Linked DNA regions of Homo sapiens: region 1 is linked to region 2. Evidence: fine-mapped expression QTL. Tissue or cell type: whole blood. Region 2 holds a variant in brackets; the other region holds the start of a gene. All regions are shown on one strand. Distances are between the middles of the regions.

The links. PIP is the estimated chance that this variant, and not a neighbour inherited with it, causes the effect.
Region 1: PLCH2 starts here. The variant in region 2 is fine-mapped to the expression of PLCH2 in whole blood (TOPMed, PIP above 0.99).

Annotation. Positions count from the first base shown.
Region 1 is chr1:2,474,824-2,477,476 of GRCh38, forward strand. PLCH2 (phospholipase C eta 2) reads left to right here and starts at 1,466. Exons shown (of 22, transcript NM_014638.4): 1 at 1,466-1,889. The coding sequence starts at 1,766.
Region 2 is chr1:2,433,214-2,436,049 of GRCh38, forward strand. It overlaps a transcript of PLCH2 not described here. Among named protein-coding and RNA genes, the nearest start is that of PEX10, 22 kb to the left of the region's middle. The variant T/A (reference allele first, on the strand shown) is at 1,233.

The DNA of each region.
Region 1 (2,653 bases), 42 kb after region 2:
GCCCTGGGCCAGGGCTATGGCCGTCTGGTCTGTCTCCAGGCCCTCAGGCCACCTCCTGGCCCCTGCGCTGCCCCTTACACGGTGGCCTTCCCCGAGGCCCTGTCTTCCTGAGGACGCCCGGGACTCCAGCCCCTCTCCTCTCCCTGCAGCTCATGGCTCCCTAATCTAATTCCACGGCAGAGCCCAGAAACGCCTGCTGACCTGCTTCCGCCGAGAGCAGCAGAGCCTGTGACGGGGCCCCTGGTGGGGGCCTGGGTTGGCTCTGTGCTGACTGCATCTGATCTGGCTGGGTGTGGCCCTGGTTGTCAGTGGTCAGCTGGAGACGCATGGCCATCTCCTCAGGGACTGCCACCTCCCACGCCTGACCTTGGCCCCGGGGCTCTGCCAGGATGCCCAGCCCTGGCACCTCCCTGTCCTGGGCTCTGCAGGCCAAACTCCTCCCCTGGTATGGGGGGAGGCGAGCAGCTGCCCGGAACCTTCCAGTCCTTGTTGCTGGAGCCAGTAGAGCCTGGGCAGTGGGTGGGAAGAAGGGCGGGGTTCTCCCCAGTGTGGTCACGAAGCATGGGCATGGCCAGGACACAGGTGGCTGGTGTTCAGCCGGGGTCTGCCCACCTCCCATTCCCACAGCTGCCCCTGGTGTCCCGGCCTGGACTTGGGGATGGGAGAGCCTGTGCTGTCCTGTAGTGCGGGGCCAGTACACAGGGTGGGCTGTGTGGTCCTGGTGGCAGTGGGACCTGGAGTCCTTTCCTCAGTGGGAGCTGAGACGGTGGGGTGGGTCCTCCTTGGGCGAGGCCCCTGTCCAGGTCAGATGGCTGTCATCCCTGCAGGGCAGAATGTGGGGACAAACGTGCCCTGGGCATGGGGCCACCTCCTCCGCCACAGCTCGGTGACCGTGGAGAAAGGTCAGGCTGGGGCTGCAGCTGCATGAGGGAGACATGGAGAGCCCAACCCAGGCTCAGGGACCCACATCCTGGGCCTGGGCTGGGAGTTGTCGCTGTAAGGGATCCGGCTCGGCTCCCCTCTCCAGCCACAGGGGCTGGGCGCTGCGGGGATGAGGTGAGCTTCTGCCCCTGCTCTGGGCCACCTGCCTCTGGACTTTGGGGATCCACTCAGAGGTCCTCATAAGTAGGGATGCGGGGTGAGGGCAGGGACCACTCCAGGCCCAGCCTCGGCATCTGTGGTGGGCGCACAGCGGGGAGGCCCACCCCACACAGGGTCCTCGGAGGACAGTACCCTGCAGGCCTTCCGGTTGCGTTCTCTGGGTCCCAGGAGGGCCCTCCCGTTGGTCCTGCTCTTGTCCCGCAGCCCTGACCTGGGTCTGGTGGCCTGGGGCCTTGGGAAACTCTGTTGCCTCCCCAGTGCCCTCCCATCCCCAGCTGGGAGTTCCCTCGGCCTAAATCCTCCACCAGCTGGGCTGGAGCTGGGATTAGCACAGGGATTGGGCCTGGGGCTGGGCGGGGCTGAGGTCCTTTGCTCCCCCAGCCTTGGGAGGCGGCTGCGTCAGGGATTCCTTGGTGGCCCTGGAGGGTGGATAGGCTGGCCTGGGGGCCATCAGGACAGCAGGTGACGGTCAGGCCAATGCCAGCCGGGCCTGGGCACAGCCCTGTGGGGGCTTCGGAGGGCCCTGAGGAGGAGGAGGAAGAGGCAGAGGAGAGAAGGCCCCACGGAGGTCCTGTCGCCAGCGCTGCCACTGCCTGACCTCCGCTGCCCGAAGGCCGGTGGGCCTCTGTGGCCTCCGTGAAGCAGGCCCGGCTGTCGTCAGGCCATGTCTGGTCCATGGCCCTCCCCCGACAGCCGGACCAAGGGAACGGTGGCCTGGCTGGCGGAGGTACTCCTCTGGGTTGGAGGGAGTGTGGTGCTGTCTTCAGAGTGGCAGCTCGGCCCCCTGGGTAAGAAGGGGCAGGCGAGTGGCCTGGGCTGAGTGCTGGCCCTGGCCAGGTGACTGGTGGGTGGGGGCTGTTCCTGGAGGTGGGGGAAGCCTGGGCCTCCATCCCATCCTGCACTCGCCTCCCCTGTCCCCCGGGTGCTCTAGGGATCATGTGGGTCCAGCAGCGTCGGCTGGCCCTGCCCCTCAGCCGCTCAGAGGCGTGCTCAGCACACCTCGGTCTCCCAGGCACCTGCAGGGCCTGGGGGCTGAACCCAAGGGGGCGAGGGGGGATCTCAGGTGGCTCCAATGCTCTCATTGAAGGGGTGCCTTGTGCTCTGGGGGTCAGTGGTGCTTGCAGCCCAGGCGGCTGGGCTGGCATCCTGGTGCCGGACATGAGGGCCTTTGCCGTTAGGAGACTCTGCAGAGGAGACTGGCTGGGTATGGCTGGGAGGGTGGAGTGTGTGTCTTGTGGTGGCCTGTGGAGGGCCCCGGTCCGGGCTGGCCTGCCAGCTCTCTGTTCCAGCGGCAGACAGGGTCCTGTCCAGGCTGCCCTGTTGCAGGCCTCTGCCCGCCCCCTGCCCCTGTGTCCTGCCTCACCCCTCTCCTAAATCCCTGCAGCCATACCTGCGTCTTCACCTCCCATGTGCCCCGGAGAGCCCAGCCCCCCATGCCATGGCTTCCATCCCTTCAATTCCCCTCTGCTCGTGATCACGTAGTAGCTTCCCCAAGAAGGCCCGGCCAGTACTGCCCTTGGTCCTCTACAACGCCCCCGCCAGGGTCCCTCAG
Region 2 (2,836 bases):
CAGGTGTCCGGGGAGGACCAGTGTGCTGTGGTGTGGGTGGTGGTGCTGGGAGCAGAGGCAGGCAGGTTTTGTGGGGCTGACTGCATGTGCACCTGGGGCTGCTGGTGGCCTGGCCTCCCTGGCATCTCCATGTGGATGAGGCTGGCAGCATGGCCCTACTTGGCCGGGGGCTGCTGAGGCCCATCCGGGCCGGTGTGCTCCTGTCCCCTGGAGTACTCCAGCGGGAGGCTGTGGCTCTTGGGGTTCAGGGCTGCTGGAGTATGTGTCCCCGCCATTCTCACTGAGCTGGAGCTGGAGCGGCTCAGTCTCGGTGCCTTGAGGCTGGCACAGGTGGGAACGGTGTGTCCGCACAGCAGGAGCCTCCCCGGGGGCTTTCTGACTTCAAAGTGCACTCAGATCTGCGTTTTCCTTCGGACTCTACACCGGCTCTTATGTTGGCGGCTCTTGTATGTTTCTTTTTTCCCTGATCATGAAAGCAAGACTCACTCAGAGGAGATGCTTTGGAAAATACAGAAAAAGACAAGGGAGAAAATCAGACCAGCCATTGCCATCCACCTCTCCCCGCTCCTTCGTGGCTTTGGGTGCCTGGGTTAGGCAGAGCCCCTGCCGGCTCCCCAAACCCCCTCAGAGCCATCGACTCCCTCCACGGATGTGCCCACACTGGGGGTCCCGGGTGATGTTGGCCGTTTGGTCCCTTCAAACGTTTGAATTTTCCCCTGGAGCCCGGCTTTGAGTGTCTGCCTCATGCTCCGAAGGGCAGCAGTGCAGTCTCCCCGGGCACCCAGGAAACTCGACGAGCTGCTGCCATCAACATCGCAGGAGGTTCCTTCACAGGCATCGCGCGTCCGGCTTCGTGGCGGGTCTCCCGTTGTTTCCTTGGAGGCTGCGGGTCTCCCTGGGTGGCGTTTGATGTATGTGCACCGAGCTCTTTGAGGCTCCCACCTTCAGCTTCTTACTGAGCAACCAAGGGAGGTGGCTGGGTGTGCCAGGGGCCGGCGGGGGCCGCGCCTGGGCAGGGGGCACCGCGCCTTCCCCAGGTCAGTCCCTGCCTGAAGCCAGGTCAGAGGCTTTTCTAGAAGGAGGCAGGACACACGGACTCACCTTCACAGCCGTTTACAACCTGGGAAGGTGGCCCCAGCTCCTTGTGCCGTGGGGCCCCTTCTCTCCCGGGCACCCACAGGGCCTCTGGCAGGGGCGTATTTCCCCCACGCACAGGTTCCTTATCTGTCTCC[T/A]CAGCTGTATCCAGAATGCAGTCTGGTTGTGGAAAGCAAAATTAAACACTGCCTTTGTAGACAAAGCAGCTGCCGCCAGGTGCGGGCGGCACAAGCTCTGTCACTGGCCTCGGGGGCCCTGACTCTCCTTTGAGATGCAGAACCCTGGACACTGGGCCGTGGGACCCTCCAGTCCCGGAAGGGCCAAGTGTGGCAAGGGCCTGGCTTCCAGCAACCCCCTTCCCCCCACAGCCAGCAGAGGAGCCCCAGGCTGCCCGGGCTGCCAGCCGCACTAAAAGTGGGGAGAGCCTCGCCGGTTGTGTCCCCACTCTGGGGCCATGCAAGCTCCTCTCCCTGGTGCCACGTGCACTGATGATGTGCTTCACCTGGAAATCGAGGCTCCCCGTGGAAACCACCCCCGGGCAGAATCAGCTGTGGGTTGCGTATGTCCTCGGGCGCCCATGCTGTACCCAGGCTGCCCAGGAGAGCTGAGCCCGCACGGGAAGGCAGGCCCCTAGAAGTGTGTCCCCGTGGCCCAGAGCTGGCTTCTCAGGGGGGATTTGTTCTGAGAAGTCCGTGGCCTGCGAGCCTCAGCATGCAGCAGGCCGGGCAGAACACCGGGGCGCAGGGACTTGGCTTTGTCAGCAGCAGGAGGCAGGTGCACTGACCTGGATGGTCCTGCCTGGGCTGCAGAGAAGTGGGCAGTCCAGGAGCTCTGCTGGGAGGAGGAGTGGAGCTCACCAGGACGAAGGAGAGCATGTGGAAGATGGTCCCGGGGGTGAGGACCTTTCCTCCAGGAACCCCTGTCACCTGCGGACAGTGAGCAGGCCAGAGGCCGGGCAGGGGCTGTGGGGGGTGGGGCCCGGTTGCTGCCTCTTGCAGGGAGGGCACCTGGGCTCGGGGTGTTTCCTCAGAGAGGATAGGGAAGTGAGGCTCACGCCCAGGGGTCCCCGGGCTCTGGGCTGACCAGCGCTCTCACACCACCCTGGGTAGTCAGAGGGCACCAGCAAAGCTGTTTTAGGTTCCAAATGGCTGGAGGCTGGAGGCTGGAGGCTGGAGGCTGGAGGCATGTGTTAGTGAGGCGGGGATAGCAGGCGCAGGGGCCTCTCTTTGCAGGGACTGGGGAAGGGGCCAGGGACCTCAATGGGGTCCCTGGGGAGGACAGAGGTGGGAATAGTTGCTGGCTGGCAGGGCCCGAGTGCAGCGTGACACGGCTCTCAGAGCCCACAGCACGCCTGGCCTGTTGTGATCTCCAGGAGGGGAGACTGGGTTTCCAGGGTCCTTTGATGGCTGTGGAGTACAGCCAGGGTGGAGAAGATGATGAACTGTGGGCAGCTGGGGTCCAGAGCCCCTGCGATGGGAGGCTCAGCTCAGTCTGGAGTGAGCCCCCACACCTGGGGGGCTCAGCTGGGAACACCTGGTCTGTCCAGTGTGGGGCTGAATTTGCTGCTGAGACTTGGGCTCTCATCATCTCTCTCCCTCTGGCCAGGAAAAGAGTGAGGGCCCCTCCTCCCTTCCTCCCTCCTCTCCTCCTCCCTCCTCCCTTCTTCCCTCCTCCCTTCTCCCCTCCTCCCTTCCTCCCGCTTCCCTCCTCTCTCCTCCCTCCTCCCCTCCTCCCTTCCTCT